2 separate regions of the Homo sapiens genome follow, and region 2 is linked to region 1. A link means that fine-mapping ties the variant in region 1 to the expression of a gene that starts in the linked region. Tissue or cell type: whole blood. Region 1 holds a variant in brackets; the other region holds the start of a gene. All regions are shown on one strand. Distances are between the middles of the regions.

What was found. PIP is the estimated chance that this variant, and not a neighbour inherited with it, causes the effect.
Region 2: it holds the start of DIP2C, and the variant in region 1 is fine-mapped to the expression of DIP2C in whole blood (TOPMed, PIP above 0.99).

Annotation. Positions count from the first base shown.
Region 1 is chr10:480,141-488,245 of GRCh38, forward strand. It overlaps DIP2C (disco interacting protein 2 homolog C), which reads right to left. Exons shown (of 37, transcript NM_014974.3): 2 at 6,319-6,390. Among named protein-coding and RNA genes, the nearest start is that of DIP2C-AS2, 140 kb to the right of the region's middle. The variant G/A (reference allele first, on the strand shown) is at 4,695.
Region 2 is chr10:686,359-694,454 of GRCh38, forward strand. DIP2C (disco interacting protein 2 homolog C) reads right to left here and starts at 3,310. Exons shown (of 37, transcript NM_014974.3): 1 at 3,136-3,310. The coding sequence starts at 3,220. RefSeq lists an enhancer at 3,685-4,620.

The DNA of each region.
Region 1 (8,105 bases):
CCATACTCACTGGATGAGTCTCACCCGCCAGCCTGAGCCCCGGTCCATGCTCACTGGATGAGGGTCTCATCCACCAGCCTGAGCTCCGGTCCATGCTCACTGGATGAGGGTCTCATCCACCAGCCTGAGCTCCGGGGTCCATGCTCACTGGATAAGACTCATCCACCAGCCTGAGCTCCGGTCCATGCTCACTGGATGAGGGTCTCATCCACCAGCCTGAGCTCCGGTCCATGCTCACTGGATAAGACTCATCCACCAGCCTGAGCCCCAGTCCACGCTCACTGGATGAGTCTCACCCGCCAGCCTGAGCCCTGGTCCATGCTCACTGGATGACGGTCTCATCTACCAGCCCGAGCTCCAGTCCACGCTCCTTGGATGAGATGCCAATCTCACCATCAGGACCGGGCCTTCACGTTTCTGCACTTTGCTTACACCTCGGATTTTTCACAAAACCCACGTGAGCAGTTCCAAAGTGGGTGCTACCCTCCCCACTGGAGACACACCGCATGGCGTAGGCTCAGCTGCACTCCCTCCATAGCGGCTGGCGCCTAAGACGAGGAATGCGATTCATTAAATGTTGCTGAAAAGACCAGGAAATAAACGTACGGGATCAAACTGACAGCTCCCTGTGGCAGAACACGTCTCCGGCAGCTAAGCGTGGTACCCTGTGAAGTGCCGACGGGAGCACGGCTGATCTGGAACACAGGTGATTCACCTGTCACTACAGCAACGCGGTCTAGAAAGATTCACGCTATGTCACAGGCAATGCCATCTGGACACCCACGTTTCCCCTCCTCTGGGATTTAAGTTTAAAACACCCTTACCCTGTGAGCTGCCACATGGCCTGAGACCCTAAGTGGAGGCAACCTGCCCGGGACAGGTCCCCGGGACCCTCCAGCCCAGGTGAGGAGGCGGTCCCTCCCCAGCACGTCTAGGAAGCGCTGCCTTGGGGTCACCAGACTGTAACTCTCATGGCACAACAAGAATACGGACCCACTGCGCACCTGCCCCGGGAAAGCACAGCCTCTGCTGACACGAGGAATCAGAACAACCAACGGCCAGCCCAGGTGAACAGGCCAGGGCCAGCCAGCCACGTCTTCTAAAGACGACAGAACAAAATGGCATTTACGTACTTAAGAAACTTTCTCATTCCGTATGTAACCAAAGTGCAAAATTCACAAATGCCAACTGCAGGGACCTCCTCCCTCACAACTGTCAAAGCCCAGTGGGAGAATCTGCAACGGGACCTCAGAGGAAGCCCTCTCCGTGGCGACAGGGCAAGGCAGCCACTGCAAGCAACAGCACTCAGGCCAGAGCAGCTGTTCTCATGAGAACATGTGATCCAGTCACAGGATCAAACACTGGGATGGGAGCCAAGTTCTGAAAAGATAATAAAATTCCACTGATTGGATGGTGCTGAGGTACATGTTACCCTCTGTCATTTCAGTCATTAATTAGCCCTTACATGTTACCATCTGCCATTTAAATTTACCCAAATCAAGAATAAAAATAAAACTGCAGCCCAGATAGACACCTGAGGCAGTGGAAGGTCTCCGGTGCCTGTTCAGGGCTTCACGTGGATCTGAGCATCATGCGGACACGGTGGCGTCTGCCCTCAGGGACACTGCACATCCATCCTCGTACCACGGTAGGGACGGTCACTCAGTGGGGCGGGGGGAAGTGAGGGCTGCCCCGGCCCACCCCCACAGGCAGACTCAGCCCCTCCGTGCCGCACCCACACATCCATACAGCAAATACCTGCCCAATGTCCACTTTCCGTGAGCAGGCAGCCGGGGCCTCAGGTGATTTACATACTGCTGCTGGGGGTTGGGGTGGAGACTTAGCGTTTAGTAACCACCACCCAACTATGACAGTGGTATTTCAGAGACAGGACGACATGGAGATGGGAATCCGGATGGTCTGACTGAAGGATCAGGGGAGAAATCCCTCAGGACAGAGCATCCAAACTGAGCTTTAAATGCCACCTGGACACGGCCAAGTGCACGGCCTGAGCAGAGTTCCTCATGTGGATGCAGCGGCATGGCTGTCGGGAGGGACAGCGGCGTGGCCATCGGGAGCCCTGGTAGCAGGGAGGAACTGAGACAAGTCCGTATTTGTGATTTGACTCAACAGTTGGACAGCACAGTGCAAGCCTGCAGGCCAGAGGCCTCCGGTGCAGACAGTGTAGAGCTTAACTCACACTGACCATGGGAGGCCTCTTCCTGGAGAGGCTGCTCACGCGACCCCATGATGGAAAAAGTGTGGGGCTTAACTCACACTGACCACGGATACCTCTTCCCTGGAGAGGCCGCTCACGTGACCTCATGGAGAGAGGCTGTGCCGCACAGACAAACCCCCTTACAGAGTCCTTGTAACTTGCACCTGGGCATCAAGCTGTCCGGCTATTGAAGGAAAAGCAAGCTGGGCTTGGAGAGGAATACCAGATCTTCATAAATCACTCAATACCAAGAAACATTTCACAGACAAACACATAAGAAGTTGCTGTGAGAAAGAGGAGCTGTATCTGAGCAAAGAAGGTTCCACCATTTATAGCCACACTGAAATTTTACTCTCTAAATCTCCACGGCCTGTGTCATACAAGCAGTGAGGCCTTGTTATCCAAGTCGACACTGTTATTAAGATCTCTCTGAAGAGGCTGCCAGGCAGTGGATTTTATTTCCTAGGTTTACAACTTTGACTGGGCTTAGAGACTGATGAGGGATGGGTTTGAACCGCAGAAGGGTGAGAGCGAAGTGGGCAGCTTCCCTAAGCAGCGTCTTCTCCCTGAAGATGATCTTCCAGGCACCCTCTCTGACCCTTCTTTCACTGCATGTATAACTCACATTTCTTCCTGGCTCCGGACAGTCTTTTCCTCAACTAGATTTAGGCAGGTGCTCAGCACCAACGCTCACTTCTGAATCCCGACTGGAGGCCCCGACAGACGCTGCCCTCCTGAGCAGCTGGGACGTGCCTGGCTGGCCTAGGGAACAGAACCCCCATTGTAGCTCGTAATTCTGCATCCCAAACAACATCCTAGAAACACTTTTAGAATAGTTTCTGGAGGAATAGGAATGTAAATGTTAGGAAAAAAGGGTGGAAGTTAATCAGAACACAAACCCCTTACAGGCAAGTGCGCAGCAGCACAGGGGAACAAGAAAGAAAGATGTTTTCCACGAAGATCCTGCACAAAGGAAGTCACGTCCCATGGGGCCAACCAAGAAAGCAGCCTCGGCTTTGGAAACGTCTGCGTTCCTTGCTGCTTCCCAGGACAGCTGCACATGGTGCACACTTGCGTGTCACAAGCAACGTCTCCAAATGAAGGTCGGCAGGGAAACAGCCTCGCTGGGGCCCTAGCACCGCTGTCCGGAGTCCCCCCATCCTGAGTCTGGTGTCTGGGCCTCAATCAGGCGGCCCGGGCCGTCCTTCTCCTGTTTTCCTCACGTTTCCGGCAGATAAATTCTGAAATGGACCTCGTGGCTAAAACCCAGCCCTGTCGCCTTCTCATCAGCTCTGCCCCTTGCTCCTGAGAGGGTGCGAGGGAATCAGCCCAGAGAGGGCTCCTGAGAGGGCCCAGAGAGGAGGAACGCAGTGGAGGCCAGGAGGCGAGGCGGGGTGTCCTCTTCTGAGACCCCAGTGGCCAACTGTAATAATAAAGTTTGCCTCTATGACTTCATTTTACCAATTTTTTTTTTTTGAGACAGGGTCTCGCTCTGTCCCCCAGGCTGGAACACAGTGCCACAATCATAGCTCACTGCAGCCTTGACTTCTTGGATTCAAGCAATCCTCCTGCTTCAGCCTCCCATATAGCTGGGATCACAGGCACCCACCATCATGCCTAATTTTTTCTTTTGTAGAGACGGGGACTCCCTTTGTTGCCCAGGCTGGTCTGAAACACCTGGACCTAAGCAATCCCCTTCCTCAGCCTCCCCAAGTGCTGGGATCACAGGCGTGAGCCACCACCCCCGGCCTTGTATGTGATTTTAAAACACATTTTGAAGTGTAACCCTGAACACGAACCTAAAACTTCCACCTGCATATGATTTTCTTCATTCTGGTGGAAAATGCACTGAACTCCCTTTTTGCATCATGAAATTCCTGTATTCAAAATACTGTCCGCCAAAGTAATTCTTACCTTTGAACAGAATCCTTACCTCTAAGAACATACTCTATGATTAACTGCTTTTTCTATTTCAAAAACCCTTACTTTGCTCTTTGGAGATGGAAATCTCAAAATCACTCCTTCTAGCAGATCTCAGAGGCCAAGACCCATCAGCTCATCCTTTAATTGGGTCTTTGGCTATAAGATGAAAGTCTGTAGAATACCAGTGGCTTTAAGAAGTTTTATAATTTGTCACGCATTCTTCTTAAGTGTTTTCTAAGTGGTGCCCAACTGAGAAAGGGGAATTGTAAAAGCAACGTTCTACTTCAATAGGAAACGCAGAACTGGGCCCTGATTCACAGGGACAGACCTGGTCTCTGGCGAGCTCTGGGCCTGTGGAGCGACCTGGCTCACTGGAGAATGGGACCCTCAGGCCCCCAAGGCCACACCCTACACGTCTGTACGGGATGGCACTCGGCGGGTGGCCCTTTTCTAATGTGTACCCTGCTGTGGGGCTGGCTCTCAGCAAAGCAGCGCTCACCGAAACGAAAGTAAAACAGAGGCCGGTTCCCTGCGGTGCTGGCCACCCGCTCCC[G/A]AGCCGCAGCTTCTCGGACGTCGCACACCCCGATGTGGGCAGAGCGGAATGTTCTCCTCGGCGCTCCTTCACTGTGCTGCAGTCTACACCGAACCACGGCAGCTCCATTCGCTGCTGTAACAAGTTGAAAAAAAACTAATTAATTCAAACTTTAGTTTTTTTTAAATTTGTTACAGCGCTGAGCAGAGCTGCCGACCCCATGCAGGACAGCACACAGACCACCAAGGGGACCACAGGGCACGACCGCCCTCTGCGCCCGGCTAAGGCCAGGGCCACCGCGGGAGGCACGGTGCGCTGGAGAACCGTCCTGGCAAGCGAGGAACCGCTTCTGTTTCACTTTTGTTTGGCAAGGCAAGAAAGTTAAAACCAACAGCGTCCGTGGCCTACAGTCAGACCCCACCTTCTGCAGCACATGAGGGCACCTGCAGAGGGGAACTCACAGGGACAGGGCGGGGGCAGCTGTCGCCCCATGGCTCTGCGAGAAGAGAATGAGGGAGGGGGCGCAGGCCATCAGGGGATCTACCCAGCACTGCCCTGAAGCCTCTCGCCCCAGCATTCCAGCCCAGCCCTCTGCTCCCCTTCTCTCGGGTTCCTCGGCGTCTATCCCTGACTTAAGCCTCTGCTAAGCAAGGTCCACAGAAACATGTTCACTGTTACATCACTGTCTCAAAAATCAAGGCAAGAAAAACACGAAATGAAAACAAAACTACCAATAGCAGAATCTCCACACCGTTTCCTGCAGCCTGAGCCTCAGGAAACTTTCCTTACTGAGTCAACAGGACCCGGACGGGCCTCGGGAAGAACAGAATCGGGGTTTGTGCAGGTGTGGACATGTGCATCCTTAAACCTTCTAAAATCTTCTTTCAATGGTAAGAACTATGCAAGTTCAATTTCCACCTTTAAAATTTATGTTGCTAGCCTTTATGTTTGAGGAAGAAACTGCTTGTGTTAGCTTTAAGCCATTCCTCAAGCCTACCAAATTTTCAAGGTCGCTCTTGGGCTGAATTGAGCTTGCCAGCTGGGAACTGAGGTGCTAGAATCCCCATCTAATATGAGATTCTTTTTCCTGACATTTACAGAACCCAGCTCAAGTGCAGGAAAGCTGCCAATCTGCACACGTAGAAACGCTGGCGGGAAACCGACTGCCCTTCTCAAGAATCATCATGGATGTTTGCAACCACATCTCAACACACAACCAGCTTTCACGATTGCCAAGTCCTGGGCGGGGTATCACAGCACTGTCTAGATTTGGCCTGTGCCACCAACAGAAGCCTTGGATTAAACCAGAATCAATAGTAATAAATAGCTCTCTAAACCAAATATGTTGAAATCACTAATGCACTCATATTTTTACGATTATAGCATTTTAAAGTAACCAACCCAATACCGATCTCTACTTATAGAGAAAACACCTATTAGGCACACTTATAGAAAAATCCTCTGTGCCTTGTATATTCACACAGCACGTGTGATCACTCAAAGGAACTGAATGCCTGGAGGGTGAACGCCAGACGCCTCCTCCTGCCGACTGGGAAGCAAGGGAGCGTCTGCCTCCAGATGTTTCTCTGGCACATAGTGAATGCGGGAAATGAGAGGACTCATGCTACTCATGGGGGTTACCTACTCGGAGGCTGCGGAAGGTAGGCTCCAATTAACTTTGACCTCTTCTTTTCATATCCTTTTTGTGTGATGTCACCTGCAAGAGAAGGAAAATGAAGTTCAGTATGGTCTCCGTGGATAGAGCATTATCATTCAACGGTGCCCAAGAAGACACAGTTATCACAGTATCTTCTGTGTGCCTCATTGTTAGAATTTTAAAAGCAAGCACTGCACATCAAACAACTTCAGTTCCTCCCCTGCTCTCGAACAAAAGCCCACAGCATGTAAGTCACTAAAACTCATTTGTTAAACACACGCCTGTTTCTGGCCCCTTCTGTATTTATCCGGATGGGGTCCAGGGTTAGACCCCTGCCATCTCATCCCCACCCGCTGGCACAGGAAGCCAAGCCTGGTGGCCGGGGCTCTCGTTAACTCAGTCAACGACAGATCCTGCAGCTGCCAGGGCCGGGATGGCCGACACCAGCACCTATTGGCATCTTCTTCATTAACAAGATGTTTTCTAACCAAGCAGGTCGGTCACAAGGACTTGAAGCCGCCACAGTGTTTTTGAAAAAGGAGTGACAAAGGCTAAGGGAAGAAGCAAAAGGTGTGAAACCTGCAGAAATCCAGAAGACAAGAGAAAGGTGCTTGTGGTGAGGCAAGAATCCACATGTTAAAGCTCACAGACAGCCACGGACGCGCAGCAGCCATGCCTTTCCTGGAGCCAGCGCAAGCACACAGGACAAAGCCACCTCATCGACACACAGAGGCCCTTCCCATTCACAAGCTCCAGCACACACAGAATACTCATTCGCTGTTCATTTTTTTGGATCTGTTGTATTGTTTTCTAAGACTGATCAAACCATAATTCCAAGAAGAGTGAAAAATTCAAGCTTTAACAAAAATATAGCAAATGAATGAAAAGTTATCAAGGTACACACACAAGCTGGTCAACTCACTTTTCCTAGTGAAAGGCGGGCAGTCTCGGATGCTGCCTCTGCCTCCACGGCTGCCTCCACCAACTCACAGCTCATGATACAGGTTCTCGTCTCCCCCACGGAACACAAGGCTGACGTCTCAACACGGAGCCAAGAACCAAATGACACGGAACCCGCATCCGCCCATCAATGAGTGTTTTTTTTTTTTTTTTTTTTTTTTTTTTTTGAGACAGTCTCTCTCTGTCGCCCAGGCTGGAGTGCAGTGGCGTGATCTCAGCTCACTGCAAGCTCCGCCTCCTGGGTTCACACCATTCTCCTACCTCAGCCTCCCGAGTAGCTGAGACTACAGGCGCTGGCCACCACGCCCGGCTAATTTTTTGTATTTTTAGTAGAGACAGGGTTTCACCATGTTAGCCAGGATGATCTCCATCTCCTGACCTCATGATCTGCCACTTCAGCCTCCCAAAGTGCTGAGATTACAGGCGTGAGCCACCGTGCCCAGCCGATGCTAACTAGGTAGCTGGCCACTGACAACAAAGGACAATTTCTGCAGAAATGTTAAAGCTTGCCGGGCACTCCACACCGGCAGCCATCAGCTGCCCACTACGGAGACGCTCAGTTGCTTTTGGAAATGCCTTGTTAACCCGTTTTACAAACAATGTCCAAAATCTGAACCACAGAAGCAGCCACATGTGCACGTGCTTGATTTAAATCGAGCCCCCAGTCAATCAGCAAAGAAAATTTCCAGACAAGACTTTAATAAATCCTAGGTTACTATCATCTCTCAAAACCTAGGAGGTGGGAAAGGGTGGCAGCACTGAGTAACTTCCATGCCCCGCATTTTCCCCCAAACCAGGGTCTGGGAACTAAGTCT
Region 2 (8,096 bases), 210 kb after region 1:
TCCCCACCTGCACAGCCTCCTCACCCGAGGGGCCTCCGCACCCTCATGGCCTCCCCACCTGCACAGCCTCCGCACCCACACAGCCTCCCCACCCGCACAACCTCCCCACCCACACAGCCTCCTGACCGTGTGGCCTCCTTACCTGCATGGCCTCCTCCCTGGCTCACACTCAGACCCAAGTATGTGAGGAGATGACCCCCCTGGCCACACAACCTGAATGTATCCCCACATGGATTCGAGGCCATCAGCTCCCACAAGAGGGCTGCCCAGCACTTCTCCCCACAGAGAGCCCTTGTGTTTTGCTGGCCGCATGCTCTGTGGTGTGAGCTGGCCTCACCTTCCCCTGTGAGGGGGCACAGGGCACGGGACAGGGACAGGCAGTGGAAGAAGGATGGAGCCCTCGGCCCCGCAGCAGGAAGTGCCCCTGCAGCCCTGCAAAGCAGGACACCAGCAGTGCATGTAATGGCGCCCAGCAGGCGGGCACAGCAGAACTGGACCAGGGTCTAGAAACCCACACAATGCGTAACCCACGCAGGCTGGCAGCCCACACAGGAACCTCAGGGGAATGCTCTACTCTTTCCTTCAGTCTATGTTATGTGCTTAAAACGGAACTTTTTCCATCCTCCTCTGTAGGAAATGAGCACTGGAAATTCCACATATGTTTCTATAATATTTTCTGATATTTTAATAAAATGATGACAACCAACTTAAAGAATTCTCTCCACTTGAATTTTGATTGAAGATGGGAAATAATTCAGCATTAACAGCTGTTTTCAGCTTTCACTCTGAAAGCAGATACATTGAGGAATTTTTGAAGTCCAATAACATAAAGAAACACAGAATTTTGATCCTTCAATTCTTGGATTTCTATTAAGCAATACTGGAAAACAAGTTGATTCATCTAATTTAAGCCTGTAAAACTGTTTTATGTGGTTATGAGACAGAGAATTCCAAATGACCTTACAGCACTACCCCCATAAACTCAACCTGGGCAAACCCACACTTCACAGCAAAGTTAAAGACCATCCAGCAAACAGATGAGGCAGTGGGGCCAGCACAGGCCGGAGGGTGCAGAGAGGCTGAATAGAGCCACGGAGCAACCCTCTCACCCTTTCTTCTTAAATGTGTAGCTCAGATCTCAGCAAGATTCATGTGGAAGGAAAAATATAATTAGGCTTCCTGCATGCAAACACACACACCCCTTTCTCTGCCTGGTCTCTCAATAAGAAACTAACTCATTAAGCCCTTTTTAAAAAACCTGTACAGACGCAAGGTGTTCACAGGGAATTCGGCTGAGCACACCTTCGTCGAAAGTGGCTTTGCCATCATCTGGGCAGCAAGACAGTATCACTCACCCTCCAAGAGCAACTGACAGGCAAGTGTCGTCACCTCAAAAGGCCACAATGCCCAACACAGGACACCCATTCCCATAGACATCCCAGACTCTGGGAACAAATGTGGGTCCAACTTCTGGGCTAGCAGTGGGTGGGGGAACCCTCAGATGGGGCTCGCCCTGCTGAGCTCAGGGGCGCTACGCTCTGCTGACCTGGATGGGGCACTGACACTTCACATCAGTGTGATGCAGGCAGCACAGAAGCCCCTGTCCTGAGACAGCGAACACGGAGGGTGCTGCAGGCAGGGGTGCACCTGGGCCGAGACGCAAGCCGGGAAACCTACCCAAGGCTGACACAATCAGATAACCAGGGTGGGCCTTTTGCAAATGATACACTCCTTACCCACCAAACGAGCTGTCTGCACTGCACAATCTACTTACCAGTTTACATCCGAACCCTGCACACGGCAGCTCCCGCCTCCTAGCCATGCCCTCCTCATCCTCAGCTCCTCAGGAGGGCAGCAGCCAAGCCCACAGGCCTGGAAGACTCTGCCCCCCGCCAACTGTGTCACGTTACAGGACACTGACACACCTCGCGGAACCCCACATCTGAAACTGAAAAACAGTACCATTTCCCGTCCCCAGAAGTCTGGAAAGGCAGTTGGCTGCACACCATGGCCCCTGCTCACTCCCTTCTTTGCCCTGAAAGTGTTAAAAAGGAAAACATAAAGTCAACACCAGCTCCTCCCTGCCGGTGAAAATTGGCACGAATGAGTTTACTTTCTGGCTGCCGGCCCTCACAAAACCGTTACCCAAAAAAAGTTCACCATGCTAAACTGCTCCAAATATAAATGTGAGACGCGCCGGCCCACCCCCACCCCACCCCACGTTACAGGAATGGCCTGACCAGGATGAGCCCAGAGACGGCTAAATGCACATCAAACATTTCAGATTTGGGAACTTCAGTGGTTTTGGGGAAAAGACCTGGCAAAGCCCGATCTGAAACTTATGACAGTTGAGCACATGATCTCCGCCATGAAGAGCAAATAAGAGGCGTACACAACCCTCCATAAGACCGCGGTGGCTGATCTGCCACAAACCCTCCTACGAGAGGACCAGGACGGCAAGGCCGGAGCCCGGCCCGGGGGGAGGTTGACGATTCCGCCCAGCCCTCCCCGCGCAGCGCCCGCGAACAATGGGGGTGGGATCCCCCGGGCCGCGCCAGGACCGCTGCACGGCCTGAGCCACCAGAGATCGAACCCGGGGTCCAACGACAAGTTTCGCATTGAAATCTGGCCGGGCGTTCCAGGCCGAACCCGCCAGCGAGGAGGTGGCGCGCACCGCGCTGCTGCACCAAGGACGCCGCGGCTCCAGCGCAGAGCGCACGGGAAGGCCGATCCCGCCGGGCCCGCTGCATCCTGCGTCCCCGCGCGGCGCCCAGGCCCCACAGACACCCCCAGGGCGCGGGGGGATCGCGGCCCCACAAACATCCCAGGGCGCGGGGGATCGCGGCCCCACAAACACCCCCAGAGCGCGAGGGGATCCCAGGCCCCACAGACACCCCCAGGGCGCGGGGAATCGCGGCCCCACAAACGTCCCCAGAGCGCGGGGGATCGCGGCCTCACAAACGTCCCTAGGGCGCGGGGTCTGGGGGTCCGGGGGACGCGCACGCTCCGGGCTGGGGTCGCACCTCCCCCTCCGGGCCCGGCCCCCGCCCCGCCGCAGGCCCCGCGCCCCCAGCCCTCCGCGCGCGGCCCTCCCCGGTGACAGCGCGGCCCGGCCCGGGGCGGGGGCCCGGTTACCTTCCGACAGCTCCAGCTCCAGCTCGGCCAGGCGCGCCCGCACCTCCAGGGGCAGCGCCATGCCCTCCAGGCTGCGGTCCGCCATGCTCCGCGGGCGCCGCGCCCCGCACGGCCTCCTCTTTGTTCGCAGGCGGAGGTCTCGGCGGCTCCTCGCGCCCGGCGGAACCGCACCGAGGAGGAGGCGGCGGCGCGGGCGCGGGAGGCGGGCGGCGGGCGCGCAGGGACCTCCCTCCCCTCGGCGCCTCCTCAGCGCGGCCCCGCCACGGCCGCCTCGCGCGCCCCCGCGCCCCACGGTCCCCGGCCCGCCCCGCGCGCGCTCGGCCCCTCCCCGCAGGCGCTGCGGACCCGGACCCGGCCCTGCTGCTCTCGGCCCCGGCCCGGCGGGAGCGTCTCTGCGCGCGCGCGTCACGGGGCCGCGGGGGCAGGGCGCGCGCGCGCGGGGCGCGAGGACGCGCAGGAGCGGGAGCGCGCGGGGGGGCGCGCGGCCGCGTCGGCGAAGCGCGCGCTCCCGGGGGCGCGCTCGGGGGCGGGTTGGGGGCTCGGGGCCCGCGGGGCGGGGCGGGGCGGGGCGGTCTTGTCTGTCCTGGGCTCTGCGCGTCCAGCGGAGCCTGCGGGCCCGGCCCCAGAGCCTGGTCCACCCGGCTCCCTGCGAAAATCACGTCCTGGAGCCGCAGCTTGACGTCTGCGCGAAAACTCGCAGTGCCCCGGGTCTTGGAGGGCTGGTTTTTTGTTAATGAACATTTTAAGAGGCGGAGACGGAGCGCTAGGCTGGAAGTTTCGAATGCAACGACCAGCAGATGACCTTGAGCGACTCTGAGCCTTTGCCTGGAGGGTCAGTGTCCCCATCTGTGAAAAGGGGATGGGAAGACAAGGTTGGGTCACCTAATCTCCAAATGCCAGGTGGGCCCGAAAAGCCTGGCTCCAGCCCTCCCGGAACAGGCTGCAGGCCCCAGGGTTCCCACCGTCCTTCTCCTTGTGGGGCCATCAGCTCCCAGCCTCAGTGCCACCTCGGCGAGGCTGAAGCCCCGTCTGTGCCTCTAGTCCTGACCATCTGGGGAGGCCCTCGCATCTCCAACCGTCCACTGAGCAAACTTCCCTGGAAGCCCCTAGACACCCCAAACGCCACAAACCCTAAATGAAGCCAGCTGCTTCCAGTGACTCTTAGTCACTGGAAGTTCTGCTTCTCAGAACCGCCCCCGTTGTCTTCATCATCACCTTCCTCTGTCTCCACACATCCTCCCCAGTCTGTTGCACAAAGCCCCGACGACCTGGCCTCCTTTTCATCCTTGTACCCCCTCTTCCCAGCCCGGCCCCTCCCTTAGGCCCAGAGCTTCCTAAAGACCTCCTCGCCTCCCCGTCCTCCACGGGACATTGGCCAGCGCTGGCTCCCGGAGGCCCAGCTGCACTCACTCCCCTTTCAGAGTGGGCCGCAGGAACACAGGTCCCCCACCTCACCCCCCTACCCCTACCCCCCACCACCCCCCCACCCCGCTTCGACCGGAGCCCCCACCAGCCGGGACCCACCTGCACGGCAGCCTTGCGGCCTCCACACTCCGGCTCCTGCAAACAACGCGGCTGACCCGCAGCACCTCTGCTCCCGGCCTCCACCCCGGAGAGCCTGCCCCTTCTCTGCCCCTGCCACCCACAGCCATCCCTGACCCCAGGTCCAGAACAATCTCTCTCCTTTCTCTTCCTGCACCGGCCACTTCCCGCCCTCATCACGTTTGACCTTTTTTATCTTCTCTGTATTCTTTGTGAGTGTAAGCGCCTGGAGGACAGAGCCCATGCCTCACCCACCTTTGCCCTTCCCATGGATCTAGCAGTGGTGGCAACCGCCAGAGGTGTGTGCATTTCCTGTAAGGATCGGTCCTTTCAGTGGGGAATTGTGAGAATGACATTCGACGATGAGCTGGGAAACAGGAACCCCAAACCCGTGTGCTTCCTGCGCCGAGCCGTGTGCCTCCGCCTGGTGTGCGCCGTGGGTTCGTCCTTCGCTCCAGACTGCGTTCAATGCAACAGATACGGGTGGCACAAGCATGTGGCCCCACCATCATCTCTCCCCTTTGCATGATAAAGAGACCGACCAGCAATGCAGGGGCCGTGGGGAAGATCCCACACAGCCCCTACACGTCACAGATAAAAGTCCTTAGAGACAGAAAGGGGAGCAGAACCAGGATTCAAACCCCAGTCTCCAAAGCAAAGCCCTGAGTTCATTTCATTACAGCAAAGATGCACTGTGCATTCCAAGCAATAAATGGTGTCAAGTCCATTTAGGGCGGTATAATGTCGGAATAAAAAATATATATTCGCGGGCCAGGCACGGTGGCTCACACCTGTAATCCCAACACTTTGGGAGGCCAAGGCAGGTGGATCATGAGGTCAGGAGTTCAAGACCAGCCTAGTCAATATGGTGAAACCCCATCTCTACTAAAAACTACAAAAAATTAGCTGGGCATGGTGGCACACACCTGTAGTCCCAGCTACTCAGGAGGCTGAGGCAGGAGGATCACTTGAACCCGGGAGGTGGAGGTTACAGTGAACCGAGATCGCACCACTGCACTCCAGCCTGGGTGACAGAGCGAGATTCAGTCTCAAAAAAAAAAATACATATATATATATATATATATATATATATATATTCTTTTTGATGGGCCTTAATCATTTGCATATGATCCTATGACTGATGTTGGTTGCAAAGAAAACTTGTAATTTGCATTAAACACATCAATTGCAAACTCAGATTTTGAGCTGATGGTTCCTTTCAGCAGGTCTTTGGGCACCTACACATTACACGTGTGAGTGTGGGCTCTCGGTCTTAGACTGCCATTTCCAGGAGCCTGATAGATATCATCTTTATCTGGAACTCCTACCATCTCCTTGAAATTCATGCTGTCCACAATCAAACTCATCCTACCTACCAATACTTTCCCCCATGTACATTATTTCTGAGAGCAGCCTCCCTTTCACTTTGAGTCCCCTCAAGAACTTCTACCCACAGCATTTCTCTTGTGCGCCACCTGCTCCTGTCGAGGCCTCTGGCTATGGCCCATGTCAGGCCTTCAGAGCCTCCTTCCAGTCTTCCCACCACGGCTGTCAGATCACTCTTCTAAAAAGTCCCTCTTAGCACAGACCACAGGCCCCTTGCTGTACAACCCATGATTCTATGCCTGCAAACTGAAGAAATCCTTAATTGACACCAATGGTCTCACGAGCCCTGCACTAAACATTTCTCCTGCTTTCTGTTCCTCCCGTCTCTTTCAAGCTCCGAGGTTCAGCTGCAGAATTCCCAGCTGTCCATGGAGAGTCCCCACCTGTGGTGTCTGTTTTTCTAATGTGCTCCCTCCTGTCGTCTCCCCTTCCCCACAACCTGAGTCATAGCCGCACACGGAATTTCACCCAGTCCAGTCCAAGTTCAAACGCCACTTCTTCCATGCAGCCTTCCCAAATCTCCTGGTTAGAAAGATTCTCTCCCACCTGTGGAATTACACACCTCTTTATCCACCTGCTCTCCCTGGGATTGGTCATTTATGTGTGTGTTTTGTCTGGTGGCTGGCTTATCTATAATTGTCCCATTGTGTTGACTGACACCACAAACAGCATAGTGCCTCTGTCTGGAAGTGCAGACCAGCACAGGAGCGGAGAGGAGCAGCCCCTTCCTCGGTCTCATTCTGCTCCACCTGTGAGCAGCCTTGCGGAACGTGTGGTTGGTGAACACCTTGCCATCTTACGTGTTCCTAAGTGTAAAAACCTGGTTCAAATGTCTGCCCAGGCAGGAATGAAGGTGCCCAATAGATGTTTATTAGAATGAATCAAATAGACTCCCAGGGCTGTTGGCTTCAAAAGCTCTGCCAAACCCCCGAAATTTCCATCAGGGATTAAAGTCACGTTTTTGAGCTACTCCACAGTTTTGCCTAGACAAGTCTCGAAAACAGTGTTGTGAGCTCCACAGAGCGACAGCTACATGTATCTAATTAAACAATTAATTAATTACCATGCCAGCTAGTATTTGAGGACCCGTTTCTAGGTCTTGCTTTACTGTCTGCTGACGGGTAATTCGTCACCATTATTTACCCTAACTTCCAGGACCTCACCTATTTTTTTCTGTCTCACTGAATTCCAAGCCAATTCTAATGAGTGAAAAATTAATTACTTACGTGTAATGGGCTCGAGATTTCAGGAAATCTGACTGGGGTGGGAAAGAGTAGCAAAGGAATGTGTTGAATCAGAGCAGGCTGGAGGTATCGGTGCCAGGCAGAGAGTTTATTTATTCATGAGATCGCTAACAGGAAGGAAACACAAAGCTCTCAGGGAGTGGCTCCCCTGCAGAAATGCATCTCAGAGCTGCACCTAGACTACCTCCCTCTTTATCAGATTAATGGAAAATTGTTCATGCTGCACTCTCCCCTGTGTGCCCCAATTCTGTGACTTTTTTTTTTCCTTTTCCAAAGCTACTGGAAGAGTAGGTGGTAAAACACTGTGGCTGGCGTCCCCCAGGTACTTACATCTTCAATCCTCTGTATGGCCGGGGGAAGCAGGGGTTACCATCTCATTGTGACAAAATCTTCCTAAGCTGCAATTTCCACACAGAACCGTGGCTGGAAGCTTATGTTTTGGGTTATGTTTCATTCTTGTCTTACCATATTATCAGAAATTCAGCTTGGGTAGACTAAGGAAAGGACAAAAGTGAGTAATCGCCTGACACAGAAAGCTTGGGTTTAATTAATTAGTATTTAGAAAGCAACTTAAGACTCCGGAACGCAACTCATCTATGCAGTCAAGAGATCATTAACATTTTTGTGACACAGGTGTTTTTCACAACATTATAGAATTAACTCTGTAATGTGACTATGACTAAGTTTGGTAAACCAGAGGTACATTTTCCTGTCTATTGGTGGTTACTGTCTTCCTCTGGAAGTAACAAACTATCCAATCTATTTACTGAAGAACAAGTACATTAGTAA